Linked DNA regions of Homo sapiens: region 2 is linked to region 1. Evidence: fine-mapped expression QTL. A gene starts in region 1. The other region holds a variant in brackets. All regions are shown on one strand. Distances are from middle to middle. Region 1 holds the start of PPP1R14C (protein phosphatase 1 regulatory inhibitor subunit 14C). Region 2 overlaps PPP1R14C (protein phosphatase 1 regulatory inhibitor subunit 14C).

Evidence for each region. PIP is the estimated chance that this variant, and not a neighbour inherited with it, causes the effect.
Region 2: its variant is fine-mapped to the expression of PPP1R14C in visceral fat (GTEx, PIP 0.95).

Annotation. Positions count from the first base shown.
Region 1 is chr6:150,134,884-150,150,142 of GRCh38, reverse strand. PPP1R14C (protein phosphatase 1 regulatory inhibitor subunit 14C) reads right to left here and starts at 7,099. Exons shown (of 4, transcript NM_030949.3): 1 at 6,645-7,099. The coding sequence starts at 6,950.
Region 2 is chr6:150,201,416-150,216,674 of GRCh38, reverse strand. It overlaps PPP1R14C (protein phosphatase 1 regulatory inhibitor subunit 14C), which reads right to left. Exons shown (of 4, transcript NM_030949.3): 2 at 1,848-1,931. Among named protein-coding and RNA genes, the nearest start is that of PPP1R14C, 66 kb to the right of the region's middle. The variant A/G (reference allele first, on the strand shown) is at 8,760.

The DNA of each region.
Region 1 (15,259 bases):
GAATATCACCAATTAGTTCAGATACAGAAACATCAATGACTTTTAAACATTTGCTGAACATTGATCCTTTTTCATTCATTCAAGCAAATGCTTAAATGTTGAAGAATTGTGTCCCGCTATGAACTTTTAAATGATGAAAATTAAGACAGTTCCTTGCCTTCAAGTTGTTACAGTCTAACTTCCCTGCACATATGTAAAAATCCACCAAAACATAGAGAATGAGGAAGGCTCTAGAAACAGGAGGAACAGTTTAGAGAATATTTGCCCATGTTCAAGTTCAAACATACACCAACACCCCTGACCCTAAAGTAACCCTATACTCTTCTCCAAATTATTGCACCAAATAGATGTGAATACCTTGTTTTCTTCACCCCTTTCCTCTGTCTCCATCATAGAGAATAACCAACAGTTAGTGGCAGCTTGTGGCTCCAATAACAACACTGACATGCTATGTCCTAAGTACTATGCTTGGTGTCTCACCAATCAGTCCTCCTGACAGCCCTGCAAAGGCACCAGGATGATTTCCTTCAACATACAGAGAAAGTAGCCGGGCGCAGTGGCTCACACCTGTAATCCCAACACTTTGGAAGGCTGAGGCTGACGGATCACTTAAGCCCAGGAATTCGAGACCAGCCTGGCCAACACAGTGAAACCTTGTCTCCACAAAAAAAAAAAAAAAAAAAAAAAGAAAAAAAAAAATTAGGTGGGAGGATCACTTGAGCCTGGGTGGTCAACGATGCAATGAGCCGTGATAGCCCCACTGCACTCTAGCTAGCCTGGGCAACAGGAGTCAGACTGTCTGAAATATACACACACATACACACACACACACACACACACACATATGTATGGAGAAAGTGAGGCTCAGAGGGGTGAAGGAAATTGCCTAATCACATATACCCACTGAATGACAGGGCCACATGTGAATTCAGGTTCATCGCACTTCAAAGCACACATTGTAACCACTGCTTCCACCCCGCATTTCCCTAACCACTGTTCCAAAGGGAATGTGTTAAGCAGTTTTCTTTCCTTCCTTTGGCAATTTAGAATTCTTTTATCTACTGACTTTTTTTTTTCTTTTTATTTGAGGCAGGCTGTTGCCCAGGCTGGAGTACAGTGGTGTGATCTTGGTTCACTGCAGCCTTAACCTCCCCGGGCTCAGGTGATCCTCCCACCTCAGCCTCCTGAGAAGCAGGGACCACCAGCGCATGCCACCATCTTTGGCTAATTTTTGTATTTTTTGTAGAGACGGAGTTTCATCATATTCCTCAGGCTGGTCTCCAACTCCTGGCCTCAAGCGATCCGTCAGTGCTGGGATTACAGGCTAGAGCCACCATGCCTGGCTTTATCCACTGACTTTTTGCATGTGTAATTTATTCCTTAGTAGTTGACAGGTTGAGTTTATGGAGTTCAGGGGGTTTTGTTGTTGTTTAAAAGCCTGTCCTCAAATACCTGAACAAATGGTGATTTACCAAACAATCCACAAGACGAGTTCTAAGTAGCAGTTTCTACCTTCCAGCTTGAGCGCTAATAAAGTAGCAAAGCCGGCTGATGTGATACTGTACCTGGAAAAGTCTGTGGAAATCCAGGATCTGCATGTAAAAGGAGAGGCCTCATCCAGGTGCAAGAACTAACCCGCTAACAGTGGTGTCCTCCACATGCACTCACAGTCCATTTACAAGGTATAACAGCAGCATCTGGGAACAGGCAAACCATGGGGTTCACATAGGTGCCAGGCTCTGCCCTGTCTCAGGAGGCAGGACAGGCCATTTGTTAAGGTGTGCCTGACTCCCTGGCCACAGCCTTGTTCTGTCACATCCCAGCTGAGAGTCCTGGGGCAACTTCTTAACTTCCCTGTGCCTGATTCCACCTCCACAAAATGGGGGTCTCAGAGTTGTTGCCAAGATTACATGAACCTTGCCTAGTACGTGCTAAGTACTCGGCCAGTGTCTGCTAACTCTATTACACATGTTTAGGCTTCTCCCTTTCAGAAGCAGTACTTTTAAAATTGCAGGTCACAACTCATAAATGCATTATGAAACAAATTTAGAAAAATAAAATCATTTTTCAGAAAGTGAGGAATAAAACATGGTATTTAAACACTAATGACGTTATGTTTCAGATTACTTTTATAATATTTTTCCTTAGCATACAGTAAGATTAAGTGGTACCCTATGACTCTCTGTTTCTCTGTATCCATGTGTCAGGCAGCAATCTATATATCCAGATGTATCAGGCAGCAATCAACAGGGTATTTCTTTCTGTGTCACCACCATCTCTCAGAAGACAGTTTTTATAAAATGGGGGTAATGGGGAGTCAGGGAAGACTGAAAGGTATAATAAGTCAGGAACCATTTTATAAAAAGCAGACACTGGAAGCAAAGGGAAAGACCTACTAAGGTGACAGTCAGAACAACACAGCAAGTACCCAAGGTACACAAGCCTGTTTATGGCTAGGATGCTACGGGCATTGCAATCATCTGAGCTTAGCAACATGTTTTTATTTCCAAAGCAAATTGAATTGCAAAACTGGAAGTACAGATGTTATCTTGATGCTGGGCAAACTTGGAAATATTCATATGACTTATCCAGTAAGTCATCTTGCAGTACTTGTTAAAGTAGATATTATGCCAGATTTCAAATGCTCTTAAAAACCACCAGGGTTGGCTGGGCGCGGTGGCTCATGCCTGTAATCCCAGCACTTTGGGAGGCTGAGGCAGTCGGATCATGAGATCAGGAGTTCGAGACCAGCCTGGCCAACATAGTGAAACCCTGTCTCTACTAAAAATACAAAAATTAGCCGGGCATGGTGGCACGCATCTGCAGCCCCAGCTACTCAGGAGGCAGAAGCAGGAGAATCGTTTGAACCCAGGAGGCGGAGGTTGCAGTGAGCTGAGATTGCGCCACTGCACTCTAGCCTAGGCCACAGAGAAAGACTTCATCTCAAAAAAACAAAAACAAAACAAAACAAAAAAAACCCACCAGGGTTTGGAAGAGATTAAAAAAAAAAAAAAAAGGTCTTTAAACAGAAATCCTTAAATGTGGATGTAGATGTAGATTTAGTCTAATGGTTACATTATAATCAAATTCCTAGCTGAAAATGTACCTGTATAAGCCTTCCCAAGAGAAGATGAGATGGAAAAGAACTATAAGCACATAACAAATCATTTTGGAATCCAATAAAAGCACTTATCTACGTATTCAAAAGGCTATTTGACGTGGTATTTTACAGTGCTGCCCTTAGACTGGGTAAGAGGGGACCACATCTCCGGGCCCCACTCCTGCCATAACCTGTCTTCCTGAAGACTTCCTAGGACAAAGTGGACACATCTATCCAGAACCAGTGCCCCTCCACTTGGTTTTAGTCTGTGATCCGGGTCCCCAGAATTCCCTTCTCAAATCCCAAGTAGCTTCTAGGGCATGAACAAGCTCCTCCCAGATCTGTTCTGGCCTAGGGGGACATCACCACTGGTGTGTGCAGAGGCATCATGGTCAAGGAGTGGCAGGTGCATACCAAGACTGGGCGTGCGAGTGGACACAGTGTCCTTTACCAGGTGGGACTGTACCAAGGATGGGAAGCAAAAGGGAAGAAACCCAGGCCAGGGCAGTCTCCTAACTGCATTTCAGTTCATGACTCTGGGAAGTAACATTTTGAATTCAAAATGCAAACCTAGACTTCAAGGTCATTATGAAGATGTAGCTGTCAAGATCAGTGGACAGAAGAAATTTTATACAAATGTTGTTAGTTTAACTCATAAGTTTTAAACATTTAGACAGATGTCTTGTAGACCTACATTTGCTCTCTTGCACGGTACAGACAGGCCTCATGGGTATACAGTGGACTCAGATTCCAGACTGGGTTCATCCTCAACCCCAACCCACCCACCAGCTACATGAGCTTGAAGCAGCCTTTTAATCCTCTCTGAGTCTTCACTTCTTTATTTACATTTAAACAAGGATAAAAAGAACATCTTCTTTATAGGGTTGTTATGAAGACTAAATGAATTAGCCCAAAGTACCTAGAAGAGCACCTAGTCACCTAGTAGGTAGGTAATAAATTCCCCTATGACATTATTCTCATACAAAACTGATTAGTCACTGCACACTTCCAGAAAAAAACACAGACAGAAAGTGGTTCTGTGTATTTCTTCTTTCCTCTTCCTCTTTCTAAATACATCACTTTACACTGCTCCAAAAGATTATTTTCTATTCTGAAAAGGTCAAGTCATCTGATTCCTAACCTGCTTGGGTCAAGTTCTTCTGAAATTAAAGATGTGTTCATATTCTACCCCAACTCAGCAGATAACTCAAGCCTTTGGCAGGTTTGAGGTTTGAAGGCTGGGAAATTGGCTGTGTCACTTTCATGGGCTAAACATTTGAAAGAATTACCACTTTTAAGTATAAAAAGGACATTTCCTAATCTTCGTATGCATGAAGTTCGGAGCTGTAAGCTAGGGTGCGTCCTTCTTGATTCACAAACCAGAGGCTGAAATACTTGAAGCTATCAACAAAGAAAGGTTACTCAACAAGAGAACCCAATGCTAAAAATAGAGCACTATCAGCAGAGAAATAGATGCAAAGAGACAAGCCTTTATTTGGCTACTTATTTGCCCATGTTTCTTTATTATTAAATGGAGGTACACCACCAGCATAGTGATTACAAATTGCCAACAACCTAATTATTTCTCTTCCTTCAGCCTACAATGACTGAACAAACAACTTGAAGAAAAATACTTGCCACGTTAATGACATGCAGGCAGCATATAGAGCATCTTGAATTATTTCACCACAAAAACCTCCCTTTCAAATGTCTAGCTGTTTGCTACGGGTTGAAGATTTAAAACCCAAGAAGAAAAGTACAATACAAGGAAAAGATTCAAGCTCATGTTTACCCTTTAAAATATATACCTAACCTACATGTTCCACACAGGAAACAATCAAACCTCCATTTTTTCTAATTATTCTGAAGTATTTTTTAAATATATTGTTTATCAGGCTACTCAGTGGGTAGAGCTCTTTCTAGCTTCCCAATCTAAGCCTAATTAGTCTCCCACAAAAAGAACCATGCTGGTGCACTGTTAATTTCAACAATGCTTTTTCTATTAATTCGAATCTTTTCCAAATCCCAAATGGAGAAAAAAAAAACAGTATGAAATAAATGAAAATTAACTGGATTCTACAGAGGCAGGACTGAGCACATCCACTCATCCAACAGTAATCCCATCTACATCAAATAATGTTTCTTTACAGAGTTTTGCCAACTTCCTATAAAAATCTCATGAATACTTCTTATGTTTGCCAGTTTTTATTTATGCAATTAAATTAGCTTTTTGTAAGAGCTGGACTGGAGAAACAACACATTTTTACAACCCCATTAGTCATACAGTCAAGCTTCATTATATTATAATCATTTATCAGTAGTCAGTAACGAGTATGCTGTTTTCTTGTGCAATGAGGGTGTTTAAGAAAACGTGTCTTCACAACAGGCCATGAAATGTGTCAAATACAGAACACCCGACATTAGTGGTAAAGCCTGTGAGTTCATCTGGTTGTCATCTCTGTTGAAGAGCACAACAGTTGAATGAACACAAACCTAGCTTTAGCTTAGAAGCCACATTCTTAATTATTAACCCCTTCATGCTTCCACCCTTTCCAAACTCCACTCCCTTAAGAGGAGGTCACTTCATTTAGAATTAATAACTGTTATTCAAGATGCTCATGAGAGATCATTTTGGCTTCAGTCGTTTTGCTGCAGTTTATTCTACATATTTCTCCCTAAATCAAATGTATACACGTCCCTGAGACTTGTGTATGACCTTAGTCCCTGGACCTTGGGAAGTCACGATGTCGTGGAGGAGAGGGGAGCTGGGAGCCTGAAGCTGACAGATCCCGGGATCCCGCAGGCCCCCCGCAGGGCTCCCGCCCTTCCACCGAGGCACCCGTCGAGGTTGCCCCAGATGCTCATTCTGCGCCCATCAATGGGAGTAACTGAGCTTAGAGAGGAAAAACTACGGCTTCAACAAAGCACAACGTGTGCAGCTCTGATAATGCAGGGCGGAATTATGGAGACACCGTCGGGGCTGGCTGGAAAGCGGAAAGCGTTCCATCTCAGGATTTTCACGGGGAATTTCAAGAACCAAGGGGGCCTCTGAGATCCCCAGAACCTCTCCTTTCCACGAGGCAGCTTCCTTCCTTCCCTGCTCGTTCTCCACAAAAATCAGGGCTGCCCGGATCCCAGCAGTGAGCGCTGCTCTCTTTGGCTGCTGTATCCCCAACCGCTGCTGAGGCGCAGCTGGAGTGAGCCCCTCCGAGCCCCGCTTTGCGCAGCTGCAGCTGGAGCCCAGAGGCGCCCGGAGCTCGGAGAAAAGCACTGTGCTCCGCGGGACCCAACCCTCCCCACGGCCACCAAGGGGGCCCGCAGATCCCCGGGCACCGGCAGCCGAACCCAGACAGGGGCGTCCCAACCGCTGAGCCCGACGCCAGAGGGCACCGCGGGGGAGAGAAGGCGCCGCGCCTCGCTCCTGGCACTTGGTCCCCGGGAGTCAGGGACATGCGCGCCCCGGAGCTGGAGCCCGGGAAAATTACTGCGCGGGCACAGAGGAGCTAGAGAGGTCCCCGACCCTCCCAGCCCCGCGCCCAGGTACCTCGCAGCCGTAGAGCTGACCCAGCTGCTCCACGATCCATTCCTCCAGCACCAGCCGCTTCCGAAGCTCCTTACGATCGTATTTCACTGTCACTTTTCCCTGCTGGTGTCGCCGCTGCTGTTGCTGCTGAACCTGCCCTGCAGCGGCCGCCGTGGCCACGGGCGCCGAGTCCTCCCGGGAGGAGCCTGAGCCGCTGCTGGAGCCGGGGCTGCCACCGGCGCCACCCCGGGGGCTTTGGAAGAAAACCCGTGCGCCGCCGCCGCTGGCCCCGCCGGCCGTCTCGCTGCTGCCCGTCGCCACCGACATGTCCCCGCGCGCCCGAGCCTCAGTGCGGCCCGGAGGAGGGGCGGGCGGAGCGCGCCCGGCGCCGCTACCACCTCCGGCCCGGCAGCCGCATGCGAAGGGCTCCCCGGCACCTGCTCTGCGCCGCGCGCGCCCAGCCGCCCGGCTGCTCTGGGAGGGCGGGAGGAGCCGCGGCGAGAGGGAGGAGGGCGGGGAGGACGACGGGGCGGGGACCGCAGCCTTAAAGAAGCCGCCGAGGACCCTCTCGGTCCAGCCCCCAGAGGCGGGATCTGGCGCCTGCGGCAGAGAGGGCCCGGGGCGTGGGAGTCTCCGCGGGGCGGGAAATGTGTGCGCCTAGACACGGGAGGTCGCCGATGTGTAGACTCCGGAAGGACGGGCGTGGGGCGGGGTGCCAGGGGATGCTCCTGCGCGGGTGTCCGTGGCCTCTAGTCTCGGAGACAGGGACTCACGCTTCTCCCGCAATCCCGGAGCGCAGGAAACGCGCCGCCTCTCGGGGCCTCCACCTGGCGCGGCCCCGGGCAGGACCCGCAGCGAAGGGGACACAGGAAAGGACCGCGCCGCAGGCTCCCCCAGGAGGTTTTCCTAGCCCCACCGTCTCCTCTGTTGGCTGGGTAGCGTCCCCTCCCCTCCAGCCCCGCCCCACGGCTCCAAACACACATTCCTATTCATGCCACGATGGATGCCACTTCCTCTCTGGATTGTGAGAAACATCGAAGAGGCGATGTTTGTGCAATAAGGCAGTCACGGCGCTTGAGAAATTATTTCCAGACCAATGTTTTCTTTCCTTACTAAGCGTCTGCTTAATCATGGGCACAGCATTCGGATATCTTCGTATCCAAAGGGCAGAAAGCGTGACGGCGCTCAGGCAAGGCGTCTGGGGGCATCCAGACAGTAAACATTTCTCTAAGAGGGTCGGCGACAGGGTCCTGGTTTCACATTTCTAGTGTTGCGTCCCGTGCACTGCCAGCTTTCTCTCCATCCCATTCCAAACAGCCCCTTCCACCCAGGAGGGCAACAGCACTGCCTGACTCTACTGCAAAACATCACAGCCTAGTAGTTACACATGAAGGAGCTTCTCAGAAGGGTTAGGACAATAAGGTGGGGAGGGAAGTTGTAAACAGAAAACTGCATGTGTAAAATTAGGGAGACACTAACATATTCTTCTTGTACACAACAATACATTCCTGTTCAGGAACTGATAGAAACCACAGAGACGTCCGAATGAATACAAGTAAGCGGCTTTTAGTAACGGTTTTGTTTTGTTTTGTTTTTTGAGACGGAGTCTCTCTGTTGCCCAGGCTGGGGAGCAGTGGCGAGATCTCGGCTCACTGCAACCTCTGACTTCGGGGTTCAAGCGATTCTCCTGCCTCACCCTCCTGAAGAGCTGGGATTACAGGCTTTCGCCACCACACCAAGCTAATTTTTGTATTTTTAGTAGAGACAGGGTTTCACCATGTTGGTCATTCTGGTCTCGAACTCCTGACCTCATGATCCGCCCGCCTGGGCCTCCCAAAGTGCTGGGATTACAGGTGTGAGCCACCGCGCCTGGCCATGAACTTTTTTTGTTTGTTTGTTGTTGTTGTTGTTTTTAAATAAAAGAGCCCTAAAGGTTACTGGCAGCTACTCAAAGAAGTTTCTCAGAGATAAAATAGATACCAAGTCAAATTCCTCGGAACACTTTCCTATGATGGAGAAGATCCTGTGTGGGGTTCTAGACTGACACTACAAAGACAAAATAAAAGTAACCAGCAGGTTTCTCCTGGCGCTTCAGGCTCTGCGATCCACCAGCGCCCAGCTCTGCTCTACCCAGGCTTAGGATCCATTGCCTTTGTACCCTCAGTCTGGGGTTTTCCAGTGAGAGCCTGAATAGGGATTTTCCCAAAGTGTTCCATGCCTGCGGCTCTTCACAGGGACATGTCAAGCCTCACAATGTGAAGGGGAAGGATCTGCGGAGATTGAAATAGGGTGGCTGGTGTGGGGCCCTGGACTCCTGCCATAATTACAAAGGGGTCAAAGCTGAACGATCTCTGCCCCGCTAGAAGAGGCCAGCTGCCCTTTAGAAGATGGGTTTTGCACCGAGCCTATCAGGGACAAGGGAGATGAATTACCTTGATTGCCCCTAGAGACCGATGACCAGTCTCTGCACCACCTCTGCCCCTCTGCCTTTAGGGTGGGTCACTGTAAACCCCGAACACACAGCCAAGAGAGTGACCACCTCAAAATGGAACTCTGTCTGCAAGGAGGAAGGGAAAGGAGGGCAGGAACCAGCCCCAGCATCTCCCACACAGAATCAGCTTATATGGCTCCAGACATCTGGCCAAGTCCGCTAGCACCAGCTTTGACCAACTGCACTAATCAGGAGAATGCAAATCAGAACGAAAACAGCTTAAATGTTATTAACAAAGGAGAAACTACATAAAATCTCTACCTCATTCTGGCCCTGGGACCTGACAATACCTATTGTGCCATCCCACAGTTTGGCAAAGTCTGGGGAATTCCAACTCCTTTCTTTAAGTCTTTGGACAACGAAATCAGTCATTCAAGGATAACGTCAAATAATTTTAAAAAATTCACTAAGTTCTTTCTGAGAAATTCTGATGTCAATTTTTTTCTCACAGCATAAGATGCTTTTTCCTTTATGCTTAAAACTCAATTTTCCCTTACAACTCCAAAATGACAGATACTAAAAGACATGGGTTTTAAGCATCTTGACTCACAGAAGAAAATCCAGGAAATAGTCTCTTTCCACAGGTACGCTGGCCTTCAGATGTTCAAGTGAGTCACCTTGACTGGCAAATAGAATTGAACCAGGGTTCCTCTTTCTTTAAATCCATTTGCTCCACCCAGTACGTAATTTATATTCAAAGTGAAGTCCATATCATCTCCTCTACCCCCAGACACACACACTTCATTCCAGGTTTGAATAATCAAAACTTAATGGCCTCATTTTGACAGATAGAAATACTGCTTTTGCAGATTTCAAATATTGAAGCCAAAATATTTAGGAATAAAGGAATTTTTCCTAGTCCAGAGACCCTTTACATAGCTGACTATTTAAATTCGGCAAAACCAGTGGTATTTCTCATCTACAAAACCAATAATATATACATTTATTCAAGGAAAACATTTTTATTTCTAGCCTATTTAGTCAAGTGTTTTTAGGTGCTGGTTAATCTAAGACAGTGAATAGCTTTCAGTGAATTGAATGGTCCGGAATCAACTTTTACCTGAAGGCAATTACTCCCTGCTATGAGAGGGCAGCCTAAGGATGTTTCATTTGAATCTTTTTCTTCGTAGTTTTGTGTTTTCTTAGCTTGGTTATGTTTTACTTGCTTCCCAAATTGGACAAAGTTTTTTGTTTGTTTGTTTAGGAATTATATAGGTCCTTTATCTCTGAATATGATCTTTATGCCCAAAGGTTGTTAGACAGGATGGATGACTTAATCAGGAGTCCTGGAACTTTTGTCACCCCCCAGGAAAATAATTAAATACACATGTTTATACTCAGATGCAAATTTCCTTAAACGGCACAATAATTATGCAACACCTGGTAATCTACTTTGACAATGTTATAATTGCATCCTGGAGACCCACAAACCTGAACATAATCTTCTTATCTTGAGTAATAAATGTCAAATGATAAGATGCCTATATCCGAATCCTCTCCAAGATTTGATGAAGCAAAAAGACAAATTAAAAATTATTTTCAGTCTGGTTTTCATTATAAATGTTGAAGAAACTTAATCTGTCTTTCAGGATTCCATTGGTTACCCACAGCATTTTCCATTTTCATTCCAATATTTCATTGTTCTTTACAGAGTGATAACAGCACAGCTGTTGACAGTATATCAGTGAAGTTTTTCTTTTGGCTACTGTTTCACTCTCCACTTTTTCTCCTTCTAATTCTGGACCTTTGATTGTATCAGGCTGGGATCAATTTAGGATCGTAATTCCAAAATAATTTGGCCGTTGCTTGCATTAAAAAAAAAAAAAGCAACAGCAATCATTGTTGCAAGTCTAAAATTTTGTCTCAAAAACTAACGTAAGTTCTCACCTCACTGTTCAGACATGATGAAAAATGGGTGAAAAAAAAACCATAGCTTTGTCCATCCCTTTAAACAAAAATTACATACCTCTGCCCATTTCAGTAAGCCTAACATGTGGGGTATATTGTCTCCTTCTGAAAAACTAGGTTCAAATTTGTTTCTAGAGGAGCAAATTATCCTCCCTTCTAGCCAATGGCCTCTTGTGCTCCTCGCTTTTACCACCAAACATTCTGGAGGAAGTGTCCCTTCCCCCACGTCTCTAGGTCTTCCCATCTCATCGTGGAGCCCTGCGCCCTCACTGAGGTCACCAGCCAGCTCTGTGTTGCTCAAGCACAGGTGCGCGTTTCAGCGCTTATATAACTTGACCTTCTGCCACATTTAACAATCTTGAACCTTTCCTCACTATTCAAACTCTCTCCTGTCTTGGCTCCAGGTACCAACACCCTCCTGATTTTCCTCCTACCTCTTTATCTATTGCATTACAGTGAGTGTTTTTTGTGGGCTCTTTTTCCTACACCCCTGCCCTCAAGGTAGGTGGTTCCCAAGTTCTGCCCTGGGCTCTTTCCTTACTCATTCACAGCCTCCCCAGGTGCTTTTGCTAGAGCTCCAACTTCCTGCAGCTTTGACTCCCACCTACCTGCCACAGACCCCTCAAATCATTACCTCAAGCAGATCTACGGCCAGAGCTTTAGATCTGCAGCATACCACATACAGTGCCAATGCACTCCACAATTATCTTTATATTTAAAGTATATCAGTACATAGCTACAGCAATTCATGAGAAAACAAAACATTACAGTAATTACTGTACTGTAATTACAGTACAGTAATGTTACTGTGCTGGGTGGCCAGCACAGTAAATAGTACTCAAGCCCAATGTTTTTCAAACATTTTTTTAACTACAAACCACAATAAATACATTTTATGTCATGACCCATATATATATCCACACACATACACTTACCCATTGTATTAGTCTGTTCTCACACTGCTGTAAAGATACTACCTGAGACTGGGTAATTTGTAAAGGAAATGGGTTTAACTGACTCACAGTTCCGCATAACTGGGGAGGCCTCAGGAAACTTACAATCGTGGCAGAAGGGGAAGCAGGCACCTTCTTCACAAGGCAGCAGGAGAGAGAATGAGAGAAGGAGGAACTTGCCAAACACTTATAAAACCATCAGATCTTGTGAGAACTCAATCACTATCACAAGAACAGCATGGGGTGAACCACCCCCACGTACCAATCACCTCCCACCAGGTTCCTCCCTCAACACCCAAGGATTACAATTCAAGATGAGATTTGGGTGGGGCACAAAGCCAAACCATATCACCCATATTTCATGTGATACACTCTGACACTTCCTACTCAATCTACTCTGTGTCTTTATGTTTAAAGAATGCTGGTCCCAGCATACTAAAGTTAGTCCTAACCCACTAAAGGATTGCAACTCATTCTTGCAAAAAGCCCACTGTTCAAACCACTGCTGGCAGCCATCAGTGCACCTATGAACATGAATCCTGGTTCTCCTTCATCTTAATGGCACACTCCAGGGTGGTTATTGATACGTTTGACATTCTGGGTTTTTTTCTTTTTAATTTTTTTTTTTTTTGAGACAGGGTCTTGCTTTGTCACCTAATCTGGAGTACAGTGGCTTGATCATAGCCCACTGCAGCCTCTAACTCCCAGGCTAAAGTGATCCTCCACCTCCCAGCCTCCCAAAGTGCTAGAAGATGCAGGCCACAATGCCTGGCTAAATTTTTTGTTTTGTAGTTTTTGCTTTTTGCTTTTAGTAGAGATAGGGTCTCCCTATAATGCCCAGGCTGGTCTGGAACTTCTGGACTCAAGCAATTCTCCTACCTCGGCCTCCCAAGTGCTGGAATTACAGGTGTGAGCCTCCATGCCCAGCACCCCAGGCATTCTCAATGTACCATTATTAAGTTTTTCAGAGTTCTGGTGAAGAACTTTGACCCCAAATGGCTGACCAAGGGCACGTGTGTGACCTCCTGGAGGTGCCACAGAAGAACCAAAGAGAAAGCATATTCTTGACATTAAGAGGCACCTTGGCTGGGCCTCCAGCCTCCCTTAGGAAATGCCCTCCAGAGTGCCCAGAGGGTGAAGATGAGAAGACAGCAACTGGGAGAGCCTCCAGCTTGAGAACAAGTGTATTGTGGTCACCAGCACAAACCCAGATCTCAGCTGCCTGGATCAAATTCACTCTCTGCCACTGAAGTACGGGGTGACCTTGGCAAGTTACTGAATCTCTCTGTACCTCCACTTCTCCATCTGCAGCATGATCAGTGGTGCTTGTGTGTGCGTGTGTGTGGGAGGGCTGAGTGAGTTACTGGAATAAAGCACCTAGGACAATGCCTGCTGTTATCTGCAGAGGGACCAAAAACACAGAAGGGAGGACTGGCTCACCATGGTTCCAGCAATTTCCCAAAGGAATTATGGCCAAGGACACACCGTGACTTCAGGAATGGGAAGAGAACAGCAGAAACCATCTCCATGGGGGTCCTGCTCCAACTCTCTATGCAGCAAATTCATTATTGCTCCTATCAACAAGCCCCAATAAATGGGAGGTAAACACCTATGTCCAACTGCTTACTCAGGGGCACCAACACCTAGATGACTGCAGTCACCTCAAATTTAAAGCAACTCAAGTGGAAATTACCATTGCTATGATCTGAATGTATCTCCCAAAATTCATCTGTAGAAACCTAATCACCAATGTGATCGTACTAAGAGAGAGGCCTTTAGGAGTTGACTAAGCCATGAGGACAGAGTCCTCATAAGTGGATTGGTGCCCTTGTTAAAGAGGCACAAAGGAGCTGCCTCTCCCCTTTTGCCCTTTCATCCTTTCTGCCTCATGAGGACACAGCGAGAAGGCCCTCACAAGACAGAAAATGCCAGCACCTTGACATTGGACTTCCCAACCTCCAGAACCATAAGGAAATAAATGTCTGTTCTTCACAAATCACCCAGTTTGTGGTATTTTCTTATAGCAGCACAAAGGGACTAAGACACCCATCTGCCCAGGCTGAACGTGCTCCTTACCTCCCTGACAAAGCTCTCCCTGACGTCCCTAGTTTTAGGGAGGTGTCCCCCTCATGCTTCTTATTGGCCACCACCCCTGGCTCTATCATATCACCCACCAAACCTGTGTGGGATCTGGTCTCTGCTCAAATGTTCCCTCCACAGATCTTCTCCCTGCACCCTCTATGTTCCTGCCCTCTTTATTTCTCTTTCTCGCTCTTATGACAGCTTGGAAACTATATATGCCTTTGTTCATTGTCTTACTCTCCCGACAGAAGGCAAATTTCATGAGGACAGGATGTCAGTGTTCACCTCAGTATCTCCACTTCCTAAAACGGTGTGAGACAAATAGTAGTACCTAGTGGACAGAAGGAGGCTGTCATCTGTCCCTCCCATTAGATTGCAAACTCCTGAAGACCAGAATGCAGCTAATTGGGTTATATTTTTAGGAAGAAGAATGATGTTTAGCACATAGCAGGTGCCCCCAAATTAGTGAATAAGTGAGACCATCTTCACTTGTAGCTGCACACATTTCTTAAGTCTACAATACAAATATACAAAAATATAGATCTGTTTCCTCTCTCCCCAATATAGATCCAATCTGGGGGTGGTGGTGATTTTAAATCACAGGAAGTCACACTTTTGCTGTCTACCAAGATGCTCCTGTGGGTTTTACTATGTTTCCATAGTAAACAAAAGGACAATAGTCACCAATTCCTCCAGGGCCCTACTCATGAGCAGAATCTCAGCCAGATGCAGTGGCTCACACATGTAATCCTAGCACTTTGGGAGGCCAATGTGGGAGGATCACTTGAGCTCAGCAGTTCAAGTACAGCCTGGGCAACATAGCAAGACCTCACTTCTACTAAAAAAAAAAGATTGTTTTTATTATCTGGGCAGGGCGGTACCCGGGAAAATGAGGCTTCGGTGAGCTGTGATTGTGCCACTGCACTGCACTCCAGCCTGGGTGACAAAGTGAGACTCTATCTCAAAAAAAAATAAAAATAAAAATAAAATCTCTAATCACCTTTTCCTCCAGTATTTGGTTTCAGCTTTCAATACCTTGTGAGTTTGAGCCACTCGAAATAGTGGCTGAGGAACCAGGTGTAAAATGAAATGGTAATTCCAGCTCTACTCTCACCTGGCTGTGAGCAGTCATTCTCAGATCTGCAAAAGTTGGAATGATTCTGAAGGCTCCTGCCTAAGGGCATCTGTAGTGAAGGACTAAT
Region 2 (15,259 bases), 67 kb before region 1:
CACCAGTTGGTAGTCTGAAGATAGAAAACGTTTAACCTTCATAAATTCTTCAGCCTGCATACACATGTGCTACATAGAAGTTTTTTGAACAGGAAAATATTTATTTTTTTTTTTTGCTACCATAGCATTGAAAACAAAATATAACCCTTGACCAGTTTTGTTTGTTTGTTTGTTTGTTTTGAGACAGAATCTCGCTCTGTCACCCAGACTAGAGTGCAGTGGTGCGATCTCAGCTCATTGCAACTTCTGCCTCCCAGTTCAAGTGATTCTCCTGCCTCAGCCTTCCGAATAGCTGGGACTACAGGTGTGCACCACCACACCCGGCTAGTTTTTGTATTTTTAGTAGAGACAGGTTTTTGCCCTGTTAGCCAGGCTGGTCTCGAACTCCCGACCTCAGGTGATCCACCCGCCTTGGCCTCCCAAAGCACTGGGATTACAGGCGTGAGCTACCATGCCCAGCCCCTTGACCAGGTTTTGAATGTCTTGCTGAGGAAAAAAGCTTCTTTTAAAAAAGGACAGGGATGCTCAAGCATCCATTAGGTTGCAGACTTCAGAGAGATGTGGACTAATTTAGTAGCTCAAATCCAGGATGGCCTTCCACAGGAACCAAATCCCCCTTTCCGGTTTTCCTTCAATTAACTGGATATAACCCGGCAGGATCCAAATGGTTTCAAACCCACTCCTCTGGTCAATGACTTTTTACCTCCTCTGTATGCACACGCGCATGCACACACCTTTCCTTTGGCTGCCAACTTGGTGGATATTCAAGTTGAGCCAGCCTGTGCAAGATGGTGGCACCCACACTGCACTCAGGAAGCAAGGGGTTTAAGTGCAATGCAGCCATAAACCAGCTTGGGTCCTCACCTGGGAACTGGGGGGTGCGGGGTGATGATAGCTTAAAAACTCCTCTCAAGTTCTCAATTTTAAGAAAACTCTGTTATGTCATTACATTTTCTATAGAACTGATACCTGCGTTATCTTTTTAAAATTTTATAACTAGGATGCTATTGTCTCCCAGCTAAATCTAGCAAGAAGAAATAATTGTCATAATTGAGACTGTTCACCACTCAAGGGATGCTAGTAATAACTAATGCATTAAACACATTAATACATTCAAATGTGCCCTTTGATTGCCGTAGTGGCCATTTGCCATTTGTGGTCACCAACAGTCATTAACAGTAATTATCAGTGGACATTAAGAACAATGGCAAGTCAAAAGTTAATTGGTTTTAGAAACTCCCAAAAGCAGATTTAAAAATGATAGATTTGACCTCCTGTGGGAAGGGAAATAAGTACTGTACTTTATTGCTGTCCACTAAGGAAATACTAGACATCTCAATATCCATCGTTGTACTGGAATGCTATGAGGTGAGCACTGTCTATGAACAGATCGTCTACTAAATAGAATTATGTCATAAGCAATATTTAGAAATTAATTTCATGAATGATACAGTCCACAACTGTGAGACCAGAGCTCTAGTCTTGGATATTCCAGTGCTAGCTCAGTCCCTCTCTTTCTCATACAACTGTGGGGCATCACTTCCCTTCCCTGGCAAGTGGATCTTTGGAAGCAGAATCAGCTGTTTCTCCCAAGAAAATGGGGCTGGAGAAAGTTATACCCATAAGGCGCTTTGAAAATGGACTATAGTCAAGGGCTGCTTTATCCTCAGAGAGGCAGTTTAAGAGAGTGAACACTTAGCAGCCCATTGCTTTCCTCTCTGCAAATGGCCCAGGTCCTGGTGCCAACACCACCACAGGGCGGAATCAGTTGATGCCAAGCACTGAAGACCCAAGTAGACTCTCAAGTGTCCATGATTAGAAGGTTCTCAATTTTGGAAACTGCTTACCTGTAATTTTGAAGCTCTCTCTTCATCACTGTCTGCATCAAGAAGATCATCAATGTCAATTTCTACCTCTGGCATTTCTTCTTCCTGGGGGGCAGTGGGAGGATATGAAGGCATTTAATTTAGTAAGAAACCTGACTGTACCCCACCAGTTAGGTTAAGTTGAACAAACAACTAGATCATCAATTGAGAAGGGCTGACAGATAAGCAGGGGGAAGGAGAGGCTAGGGGGAGAGGAGGGAAGGAAAGAGAGAAAAGGGGAAACAGGATGAAGGGGTAAAGAGGAGAAGAAGGGAAAAGACAGGAAAAGGGAAGGAGGGATGGGGACAGATGAAGAAGGGAAATGAAGGAAGGAAGGAAAAGGAGAGTAGGGGAAAAGAAGAGAAGGAGGAGGGGGAGCAAAGGAGAATTAAGAGTCACAAAGCCATAAAAGTAATCTTTCAAAAAATGAGAATTTTCTACTTTCTAGCATTAAGCTGCATCTGTAAGTATATAAGGGGAGACTGGCAGATGATAGAGCCGGGAGATGACAGTTTCCTATCTGACAGCCACCCTTTGCTGGGTGATTACCCCAATCTTTATTTGGGGGTCCACATCTTCCTTCACAGCTCTGGGTCTATGGAAAACCTGATTCCACCATGGGATTTGGGGCATCAGTATGGCTTTAGCCCCAGTTACTGATTTAAGAGAAGACACGTGGTCCAACTAAGAACTAAGGGGGCTCTGGGAAAAGGCGCTGTTTTTACAAGAACGTCCCCTTCACTCCCTCTGAACCGAGGAAGTGTGGCACCGGAAATTACCGGTGGCTACCATACAACCCTGAAGAAAGGCTGTTTTGGATGAGGCTGACTCCACGTTAGGCAGAGCTGAAGAGAATAAGAAAACAGGGTTCTAGATAAAGTCACCACATCCCTGTGTCAAACCACCTCTGAAGCCTGCCTATCAGTGAGTGAATCAACCTCTTTCATTGTTGCAGCCAATGTGGGTCTAGTTTAATATTCCTGCCACCAAAGACCTCTAGCCCAAAAAGAGGGAAGAAGGGCCAGATGGATTTGGTGAAAGACCCCACTGATTTGGAATCTGAACTTCAAAGGAGATCTTGGCTATTTCTCATCTCTTCTGTTACCTAAGTCTTCTCTATACCTCTCAGAATAGCATTTTAAAATGTCAAAATAAAAGAGCATTTAAGAGAGTCCTGCAATTTTGCATTTCATCAGGAGTCATGGCAGCCCAACTCCTTCCAGCCACAGGGATGGCTGAGAAGCATCTGCAGGAGCTAGAGAGAAAGGTGTACATGGGGACACTGGGGACACCCGGGCATTCCCTGGGTGTGGCCTCTCTGTGTCTTGGCTCCAAGAGCTGTTTGTCTTGGCTTCCCAGAAGAGGCTGACTTTCTGAATGTTTCCTTCCTACTAAAGTGCATTTATTCAGTAATAGTACTCAACCTCTTGTGTGTGTGTGTGTGTGTGTGTGTGTGTGTGTGTTACAACACAAAAGTGAGGACCCCAGTATACTGAGGAAGTCAAGGAATATGATACACTATCCTCGCTGACATTAGCTCCAAGAACAGGCCCTCAATGGGCAGGAAAATTCCAGAAACAACCTCTCTAGTGATTTATTCTTGTTTCTGTGGAGAATTTCCGTTTTGATCCTTTGCTTGGCTCTTAAGGGGAAAAATCCACTTCAAAAGCAGTATTTATCAATGTGAACGTTTTAGATCTCATCTGTGCGGTTCTGCCTAATGGAAGAAAGATTTTGTACTCCTCGACATAATTTTCATATTTGTACTTAACAATCATGTAGCTATTAATAGAAGCAGATGATGTAGAAACAGGAAGTTGAAACGCTTTGATGATAATAAAGCTGAAGGATGACCTTTCGATGGCTAGGAGCATCGTTGGGCAAACATCACAGAGTGAACTTACACAAACCTAGATGGCGTAGCCTACCACACACCCAGGCTGTATAGCACAGCCTATATTGCTCCTAGGCTGTAAACCCGGACAGCATATTACCATACGGAATAATGTAGGCAACGGTAACACAGTGGGAAATATTTGCGCATCTAAACATAGAAACGGTACGTTAAAAACAGGGTATTATAATCTTATGGGACCACTGTCATATATGCAGTCCATTGTTGACTGAAATGCTGTTATGCGGTTCGTGACTGCACTCGCCAGCTATACCACTGTGGCTCCTTAAATCACAGCTAAGGGAGCTTGGTGTCTGCTATTTTTAAAGGAAATGAGAGAACAATTAGTAACTAATGCCCTCCGCAGAACAGCACAGCAATGGGTTTTTCTGCAAATATAATTCAAATAGTTTTGACGCCAGCCAAGTTAGGCCAAACAGGCTTTGACTTGCATAGCAGTGTAGAGCCTCGCCCTACACAGTAGGCATCTTCAGTTAGGCATCTTCCCCTTAGGACTGTGCACGGCTCTCTGTTAGGTATTGCACTGACCCATTTTCCCCAACCCCTGAGATCTGGGCTGTCCCATATGGTAAGCATATGTGGTAAGCACATTTGAATACATTAAAATGAAATACAACTCAGTTCCTCAGTCGCAATGACCACATCTCAAGTGCTCAATAGCTACACGAGGCAAGTGGCTACTGTGCTGGAAAGCACAGATGGAGAGCACTTGCATTGTAGCAGAAAGCTCTATTGGACAGTGCTACCCCAGAGTACACTCGCCCTCTGGCCCAGAAGTTGGGAAGCAAAGCCCCTTCCCCTCTCAAAGGGGCTTGACAGGAGTAAAGAAAAAAATGCCAGGCATCTCAAGGTCACTCCTACTACCCAAGGGCATGTGATGAGAAACCCTGAGCTTGGTTTTACCAGCCAGAAAGCTGATGCAAACAAAGCCCAGATCTCAAGGGTTGGGGAAAAAACCTCAAGTGATTGAGTCATCGTTAACAGCCATTAGGCATCTGCGCTTTTTACCAACCTATGCTGCTTCTCAGAAATCCCACCCTGATTTATCAGAGGCATAGGAAGAGAAAGGCATCCCGCTCCCAGCTCAGCATGCGTCCCGGGTGTTCTGAATGTCAGTGAAGCTGAAACAAAACCCAGGTGAGAAGAACATAGAGACCCAGAGGCTCTTGAGGGAGAGTCCTGGGAAGCAAAGACAGCACCTAGTACCAAGTAGAGAATCCTGTAAATTGGTACTTAATATTCTTAATGAGAAGTATGGAAATATTCTAAATTTGATTGAAGTCCTATTTAACTTTATCTTCTGTATGCTGATCTTAGAGCAGTATCACTGAATGACCTTAGTGATAGATCAAATCACTTACAAAGGAGGGAACATGCCCATGGCCCACCATGACGTCCCAGAGCTTAGTTGTGTTTGGGCATTTTCCCACATTAAAGGTGTGTCCCTAAACAGTGGCTCTGGTGACAAAAAGTGAAACAACTGTCTTCACAGCTGCTGGGGAAAGTTATCAGCTACTCCCTGCCCCACATTAGTGAGAGGCCCTCCTGTTGGTACCCATAGCACGAGGCCCTGGATCACCTCTACACATCTTTCTTGTCGTACATTTGTTGAGAACCCAGAGTCCGCAGAGTGCAAGGCACTGTGTGTCAGCCACAGTGAGGCCCTGGCACTGGGGGACGGGCTGTCTAAACACAGCTCTGACAAACACAATGACATGCAATGGCCCCAAAGCCACAGACAAACCTGAAGCGCTTTAGTGATTCAGGGAGAGAGAAAACTCCGCCAGGGGCAGGCAGGGAAGTTGCACACAGGAGGGAGGAGGTGAACTGACCTTGCGGAATGACAGGATTTGAACAGGTTTAGAGGGAAGGGAGAGCACTCCCAAGAGGCAAAATGGTAGCAGGAGGCAAAGAGACAAGATGAATTCTAAATGTGGGTGTAGAAAGGTCCTTGGCCAGGAAGCCAGTCAGCTCTGGGCTGCAAATATGCACGTCGATGGGGGCCAGACAGGTGACAGAAATGGAGCAGGCTGAGGGGCTATACAGTAGAGTGAGGAGTGCAGCAAACTGGAGAAAACATGGCCTGAGGGAAAGCAGCAGGGAACACGCCATTCCCACCTCCTGTCACCTTCTAGGAATATGTGCTCAGTGCTGCTGGATTTTCTACGTTTTCAGGAATAACTGAAAATAGAGTTTTTTAATGTAAAAAAATTCCAATTTTTAAAGCTGTCCGTCAACTTCTTAAAATATTGTGTAGGATAAACAAAACCCATTGGCCCATAGGCTGCCGGTTCCCCTTGTCCTGCAGAGACTGTCACACTGAAGGCTCCATGGCTCCAGAACAAGACAGGGGAATGACAGAAGGAAGAGATGGCCCCACTGCGGAGCCCGGGATAACAGGGAGGAGGCAGGAGGCTGTGGGAATGTCATGTATCAGGTGCGAAGCAACAGGGCTTGAAGATGATCCTGGCAAAAATAAGATTTTAAAATAGTGATAATAGGGAGGAATAAACAGATGGAGTTTGGAGATGAACTGGATGAGGGATCGGGGGAAAGAAAAGGTAAAGATAAGATCCAGGTTCTGAGGCTGAGAGGTTTTGGAGAAGGACAGTAATGACGGGAGCACACCGGGGCTCTGAAGACACCTCACAAACCAACACACAGTGTAGGCTTGGCCATCACCAGCCCCCTTGCCCCAACTTGCAAGCAGCAGTGGGACTCCGCATTGCCACTGCACTGGGAAGCGCTGCAGAACCTGGCGCTGGGCATGCCACGGATGAAGCTCAGAACAGGCTCAGGTACCAGGATGCAGAAATGCAAGCAAAGCAGGGTCCTGAAACACAGCTGGCCCGCAGTGACAACACACACACACACACAAATATATACACAAACATACACAAATATATACACAGACATACACACACATGAATACACACAATCCACACCACTCATACACACACATGCACACACACATACACAAACATATACACATACACACAGATGAATACACTCCACACCATTCATACACTCACATCCACACACACACACACACAAATATATACACAAACATACACACACATGAATATAAACACTCCACACTACTCACTCACATGCATGCACACACAAATATATATACAAACATACACACACGAATACACACACTCCACACTACTCATACGCTCACATGCACACACACACACACAAATACATACACAAACATACACTCCATGTGAATACACACATGGATGAATACACAAACATGAATACACACACTCCACACCACTCACATGCATACACACACACAAATATATACACAAACATACACACAGATGAATACACACACTCCACACCATTCATACACTCACATCCACACACACAAACACATACACAAACATACACACACATGAATACACCCATTCCACACCACTCATACACTCACATGCACACATACACACATACACAAATAAACACACAGATATATACACACACTTCTAACTAGCCAGAAAGTTTACACTGTCAGCCCTGTCTGATGTCACATTAGCTTTTAAAAAATATAAACGTTCACCCCTGCCCACAGCAGTGAAGGGAGCAGGCAGGAATGTTCAAGCTAAAACCTCACCTGAAGATGGATCATGGTCTCCAAGCTCTAGGAGACATAGCTTGGCAGCTTCCTGGAAATGACTGTGGCTAACAGCTCTCATCCGTCTCCATTTCAAAATAGGGATGGCAACGTAACACGGGATTAAACTCCTGTGCAAATTGTGGCAGCTGATGGAGAAACGTGGGGTGGCAGGGGTGGGGAGTGGCAAATGTCAGCTTATTATGGCCTGTTCAAACACTCATCTGAACAATAGCCACAATTTCTTATAGCTCATCTTTCTATAGGCCTATGGGAGCAAACTGGCATAGGAAGCGTATAAAAAGAACTGAATCCTTGGGACTATGTGAGCTGTCTATGAAAACATTTACATCTCATGTTTTCATTGTAATGACAATCCAAAATAATTCCTGTAAGCAAGCACAGTCTAAGAATAGTCTGGACAGCCGTGCTATAACCACGCTGTGCCGGGCTGCTCTGTGTTTACACATTGGCATCAAGCAGAATTATGTTAATTGTTGTGGCTAATGAGAAAAAAGCCACAGGGTAGATTTAATATATAAATGACTCATTCACGCCAAGTGAAGCCAAACGCTATCACTCAAAGGACACTGAGAGACGGCAATCTGTACCTAATTCCAGTGACAAAAGGAGTGAAGCCAGCCATCACAGCAAAGGGATGTTGTGCATTTGAGTTTCATTAGCTGGTACTTTATGTTTAATTTGCAATTTGGATGTGATTTTTATAACCATAGCATAAGGAATTTATACCCAGTTTTAAGTGGTATGTATTTAAATAATATAACATTAAATATTTAAATCAGCCCTGGAATCTGCAAAAAAAAATGTTCCCACTTAACAAGGGGCCCAACCTACCCTATGACACATCACTATATAATGTCAGAACACTGGGGATAAAGGGAGGATCCTGGAAGCTTTCAGAAGAAAACCAGGCCACACATGGAAGATAGAGAATTAATGTCAGTGGGTTTCCCTATAGCAACAGAGCATGGAAGCCAACAGCAAATATTCCAGAAACCCGAGAGGAAACCATTTCCACCCTCAAGGCCTACATCCTCCCTGCTATGGTTTGGATGTGGTTTGACCCCTCCGAAACTCAGGGTGAATTTGGTCCCCAGGGCAACAGTACTGAGTGAGAGGTAATGGGAACCTTCAGAGGTGATTAGGTCATGGGGGCACACCCTCATGCGTGCATTAACACTGTTCTCTAGAGACTGAGTTGGTTCTCATGAGGCGCTGGTTGTTATAAAGTGGATCAGCCCCCTTTGCCCCATCTCTTTTTTCAAGCGCTTGCCTGCCCTTCCAGTTTTCTGCCATGCTATTACACGGGATGAACGCTGTCACCAGAAGCCAACCAGAT[A/G]TGACCCCTCGACCTTGAACTTCCCAGGCCTTGAGGTTGGAAATTGGTTCCTCTTGGGATTCTGGAATCCCTGCTCTTGGCTTCCATTGGGAAGCCTGCTGACATTGATTATCTTCCTCCAGAACTAAAAGAAATAAATTTATTTTCTGTATACATTACCCAGTCTGTAGTCTTCTGTCACAGCAACAGAAAATGAACTAAGACATTCTCAGACTATCTATCAAGAGTAGAGAAAAAACCATAGACATTTTAAGACATATTAGGTCTTACATCTTCATGTATTTATCCTGTTTTGGGAAGGAGTGCTCCAGAAAAATAGAGAAATAAACTTTGATTTTCTTATATCCTCTACAGTTGTGGCTCATGAAGGCCAGAGGGCATGTCCCCAAATCCAGATTGAGGAAGGTACATGGGATGCCGGAGTGAAGAACGAAACAGATGGAGGCTTGACAAGCTGGGGAGCACGCAAGGCATGGAGATGAGCTTGCCTGATGCGAATCGAGGGCCCAGCCCCACCGGGCACCCATCTGCACAGGTGGCCAGGCCATTTAGAGTGGCTGGGGTAGGATGGCCTCACCTTGGGCCTTAGACAGAAGTAGCATGGGTAAACAAGCATATGCCTTTCCAGTGGGATCCTATATTACCAGTATTTCCCTAATACACATTTGTTTTTAAAGTTAAACCAATGGCTAAAGCTTGCTTAGAGCCAGAGAGCAAAGTCCTCCCAAAGCCCTTTTTAAAAACATCAAAATAGGCCGGGCACAGTGGCTCACACCTGTAATCCCAGCACTTTGGGAGATCGAGGCAGGCAGATCATGAGGTCTGGAGCTCAAGAACAGCCTGACCAACGTGTTGAAACCCTGTCTCTACTAAAAATACAAAAATTAGACGAGGATAGTGGCATGTGCCTGTAATCCCAGCTACTCAGGAGGCTGAGGCAGGAGAATCGCAGGAACTCGGGAGGCAGAGGTTTCAATGAGCCGAGATCATGCCATTGCACTCTAGCCCGGACAACAGAGCGAGACTCTGTCGCAAAAAAAAAACAAAAACAGAAACAAACAAAAAAAAACATCAAAATAGCCTGACTGAACCTGACTCCATTGACTCCATGGTGAAGTGAAGGAATGTTTTACATAATATTTACAGGAATCGCCTTTCTTGTCACCCAGGAGAGCAGGTCCTGACCTACCTATATCCTACGAAGGTTCACTTCTGGGGCACTGACGCAGATGCAAATGACAGCTGCGGCAGAGAGGAGAGCTCCCGGCAGGGACCATCCTCATGCCCCGTGTAGAACGCCTCCCTTTCCTCCTGCTCATGAAGACACATTCCAACACAAGTGAACAGGAGTGGCATTGTCTCACAAATCAACACTGTAAAACAAATACCAGTGCTCACACATGAAGATGCACATCACGGGTTACGTCAGATTATTCTAGAACTAGGCACATCTACATCAGGATCTCAGAACACCAGGCAAACCCCTGCAGCACCGATTTACTGAGCACCTACTACCTGCCAGGCACTGTCCTAGATGCCAGGGTTAAGGAATAAACAATTGACAAAAATATTTGCTCTCGTGGGGATTAAACTCTAATGGGGGAAGACAGACAATAAACAAATAAGTACAATACGTACAGTGGCAAAGATTGATAAATATTTTGCAGAAAAATTAGGCAGGGGAGACAGGGAGTATGGGGGCTGGAATTTTAAGTCAGGCAGTGACAGGGTAAGGCTCAGCGAGAAAGGTATCTGATTAAAGACACAGCATCAAGGGAAAACACGTAATGCCAGGCTGTGTCTAAGAAGCTGCCAGGAGCCCGGGGTCACTGTATCAGAGTTGGGGCCATGGTGGGGGAAGGGACAGAGCATGTGGAGACTCAGAGGCCCCTGTAAAGCCTCTGACTTGTACCGTGAGCAAGAGAAAAGCCATTGATGGGTTCTCATTCTTTCAGAGGCATGATGGGTTATGGTTTACCTGTTAGAAAGGAGGGCATACGCGAAAAGACCAGTTAAGAGGCCACAGAAATAAGCTGGGAAGAGATGACACTGGCTTTAACTAGGGAGTAGCATGATATATATATTTCTTTTTCTTTTTTATTTCCATTATTTTTTTTTTTTTTTGAGACGGAGGCTCATTCTGTCGCCCAGGATGGAGTGTAGTGGTGCTATCTCGGCTCACTGCAATCTCCACCTCCCAAGTTCAAGGGATTCTCCTGCTCAGCCTCCCAAGTAGCTGAGATTACAGGTGCCTGCCACCACACCCAGCTAATTTTTGTATTTTCAGTAGAGACGGGGTATCACCATGTTGGCCAGACTTGTCTCAAACTCCTGACATCAAGTGATCCGCCCACCTCAGCCTCCCAAGCATGATATATATATTTTGTTCTTACAAACGAACTCTTATCTGGGTCACTGCTGATCCAAACCTCAGAGAGCAAACTGGTATCTCAAGAGCTCCATCAGGTACTGTAGTTGGGTGAGCCATTTAGCACTTTGCAAGATCACAAGTACCAAGCTCACACCTATGCAACAGCAGCAGCAGGCCAGTGTGATGGGTGTGTGAGCCACTGACGATGCAGACCAGGTGGTAAGAGAAGTACCCAGGGGCTGTTGGTCCCAGAAGTTCAGTGAGGCTGCTAGACACTGACTAAGCCCAGGCTGAACTGCCTGGGGGCGGCGGCAAAGCAACAAGGAACTAGGCTGAGGAGGTCTTTTCTAGGTCCTGAACCCACCCACCAGGCAGGTTTCTCTTTCCCACCCACCAGGGAAGTTGCCAGTATCACTGGCACCCAGGGCAGGCTTAGTTCGTGCCCCCAAATCTCTCCCCTACATTTAGCAATTCATTTTAGCAAAAATGACTATCTCTGGAGAGATTATCAAAGTGCTCCAGACACAGTTTAACAAAAAAAAAAAAAAGACTCTGAGTTGGAGCAGAGGTTGTGTTCTATGCCCAGCCTTGATCTCAAAGGGCTCAAGAGGCCACTTCCTCCTGCAATGGGAGGACCCTAGGGAGTCTGGTGAACAGAGCACAGCATGGGAAGAAAGCGACTGAAGCCTCCGACTTCCCGTGTATGCCCCAGGCTGCCCTGCTTCTCAGCACAGAGTCGGTCCCTTGGGTAGGGGCCAAGTGGTGTTGTGCCCAGAGCATGGAGTTTGGAGAGAAGCAGACCCAGGTTTCAGTTTCATCTCTGCCTCTGACAACCCGTGAGAGCTGGGGCAGGGTAACGCATCCCCTAACCCTTAGTTCCCACACCTGTAAAATGGGGACTGCTAGCTAATTCTCGGGGCTGGATAGAAATCGGGCACAATCATGCCCACGCACGTTGTGCAAACTCAACAAATGGTGACAGGACCTCAGTGGGTGCTAAGTTGACTGGGCACATCCGATTCCTCTTCAAATAAATAAATATTCCATGTAAATGTCTCTTCCAGGGAATCGTGTACTCCTGATGCCTGAAAATCGTTAAGTGAAGACTTATCACATTACCGATTTGTTCAAAACCACAGCATTCAAAGAGAAAAAAAGAAAAGAAAATGTCAGCAAAAAAACCCAGATGCAGAGCTTCCTGGAGACAATCACACTTTGCTCTGCTTATGAACACTAAACACGCACAGCTGGTTGTTAACAATGCCCCCGTGACGAGAAAGTCGGCAGGTTGGTCCTCGTAAGACGAGTGAAAATAAGTGACGGCTGAGACAGTTGCTAAAGATGGCAAGGACAATCTTCTAAGCCGTGGCATAAACGAGGACACTGAGAACACCTTGAAAGCACTGGACACAGTGGCCAGGCGGCCGCCACCCTCACGGCTCCTGTGCCGACAGCAGCCTCTCTTCTCAGGGCCCTTCTTTCTCCGTGCAGCACCTACATGAAGATCCCCGGAAGGGAGAGGAACACCATGCGGAAGCTACAGGCTTGGCACTGGTCCTGGGCTACAGGCAATGGATAAGAAGACTGGGAAAGAATAAAGGAAGGGCTGGCGCCACCCAAGGACAGAGCAGCAGCAGTCCAGCCTGTCTCTAAGAAGTCACACCTGTCTACGTCTTGCTTGCCATTAATTTAGGGATTGAGCCTGAGCTGTCTCTGATAGAAGATGGTCCACATCCAGATTTGCAGTGGAAAGGCTTAGGGCCAAGCAGAATTCTCTTAGACTGGAAACACTCAAATTACCCGATGATGGAATAAAAGCAGTGGGCAGAAGCCCGTTCTAGCCAATTCTTGGAGAGAAGACGGTTCCCCTGCACTATCAACTGCTCATGACTGAGGCATTCGGGGTTGCTGCAGTGTTAGATTTCCTAACACAGAACACGAAATCCAGACCGTTTCACCTCCTGCCTCGGGAAGGCTCCTAGATCAGCAATGGCCAAATATGTCCAGTACGGGCAGGTGCACAGAAGCCTGAGAAGATGATACGGAAAAGCCGCTTGGAAGACACTGAGAGGAAATTGTGAATCCCATCGCAAGGCCTCCAGCCGGTGAGCAGACACACTGCACTTGGAGTATAAAAGACCATTGCTGATATGGGCCATCAAGCATGAAAAGACACGAAGGACCTTAAATGCAGATCCATAAGTGAATGAAGCCAAAATGGAAAGTTGCCATACGCATGATTCCAACTACAGGACGTTCTGGAAAAGACTAAAATATGGAGATAGTAAAACCATCAGGGATTGCCAGGGGCCAATGAGGAAAGAGAGATGACTAAGGCAGAGCACAGGGCAATTTTCAGGCCAGAAAACCTGTGTGATCTTATAAGGGTGCATCTATATCATCACACATTTGCCAAAACCCAATTAGAGGAAAATGACACACAACCCCAGAACCCACAGGATGTACAACACAAAGAGTGAGTCTGAATGGAAATGATGAGCTTTAGCTAATAATAATGTAGCAAGATTGTCTCAGCAATTGTAACCAAGATACAACACTAATGCAAGATGTTAAGAAAAAGGACAACCGGACTGGAGGGAGGAGAAAGAAAGGGGTAGATGAGAATTCTCTGTGTTTTTGGCTCAATTTTTCTGTAAATCTAAAATGCTTTTAAAAAATTAAGTGATTAAATTAAAACAAAACAAAACAAAAGACCAAGACTAATGTGTTGGTGGTGGCTGAACCCAGGAAGGTGAGGGCCAGGCCTTCCTGTGACTGGCTCTGCTGGTTCTTCTTACAGCCGAGGGCTGGGCAAAAGGTCCAGGTGTGAGTCATACAATGACCTTCAGCCAACTGAGGCACACCCAGGTCCTCAGCTTCAGCCCTGAGACCAGGCCAGGCTGTGTGGGAGGGCACCATGGGGACCCTCCCAGAGAAGAGCCTGCAGGGCTGTCCCGGCGGCAAAGGAGCGGCAAAGTCGGCCGAAGCTTCTTCTGCCCAATGGGGACTCCAGCTCCTGGTTGAGAGGAGCCAGGGTTGCTGCTGACAAGACACGGGCCTGCCCCAAACCTAAGAACGGCAAGGGTGCCAATGAGAAAGGGACAAACCTAAGAACAGCAAGGGTGCCAATGAGAGAGGGAGAAGCAAAGCCAGACACCAGGACAGCCTGAGGCAAGGAGGTGTGGGCTTGATCTGGGAAAAGCCAGCCGGAGCCAGGCAGTGCCTCTTCCGTGGGACCCAGCCTGCGTGACAGAGTGGGGGTACAGGGGAGGGACACAGAGATTAACAGAGACTCAAGGCTGGCAAGCCTTGTTGTGGGGTGGGCACCCACCAGGGATGTTCTGCATGAGGATGAGAAACTTGCTAGAACATTCCTTGCACTACCTTCCTCACACCACACAGCAGAGAGGCGAGAGAGGAGCTCACGCTTGATGCAAGGCTACACCAGGGTCAGAGGGCAGGCCCCCGGGGCACACAGGCTCAGCTGCCTTTGGTCTTAGGGAATGAGGCCAGTCCAAAATAAAAAGTCATTTAACCAGAGCTGCCTTGTGAAATGAGCAGAGCAAAGGGCATGCTTCTTTGTAAATTATTACCATAATCGTTTACCTGTAATGCATGTTTATGCAGGCAATGTGACGGTTCATGGAATACTTCACTCCTGACCCCTCCTCTCCCTGTCGCCACCATCCAATCCATCACCATAACTGTCAATTCTATGGCTTACCGTCTCCTGAACCTGCACTTTGTACCACCTCCACTGCCCCCCTAGTGAAAGCTAAATCATCTTTTGCATAAGCTATAGCAGGAGCCTCTTAACTGGCTTCCATAAACTCACCCTCATGCCTCCGCCATCCCAGTTTCCACTCTGTAGCCAGAGTAGCAACTTTAAGAACACAGATCTGTCATTCACCAGCTTAGAACTCACGGGTGGCTTCCTACCAGTCTTAGGACCAACAGTCTTACCTCTGCCTGGAAGGCTTCCCCTGCTGGGCTCCCGGCCTCCTCTCCATTCAATGCCTCACCCCAACTCCCTGAGCTCTAACTCCGCTGGTCTCCTCCGATCCCTCAGGACACTCCCCAGCCAGGCCTCCACAGGGCCTTTGCACGTGCTGGGTGCATGTGTAGGACA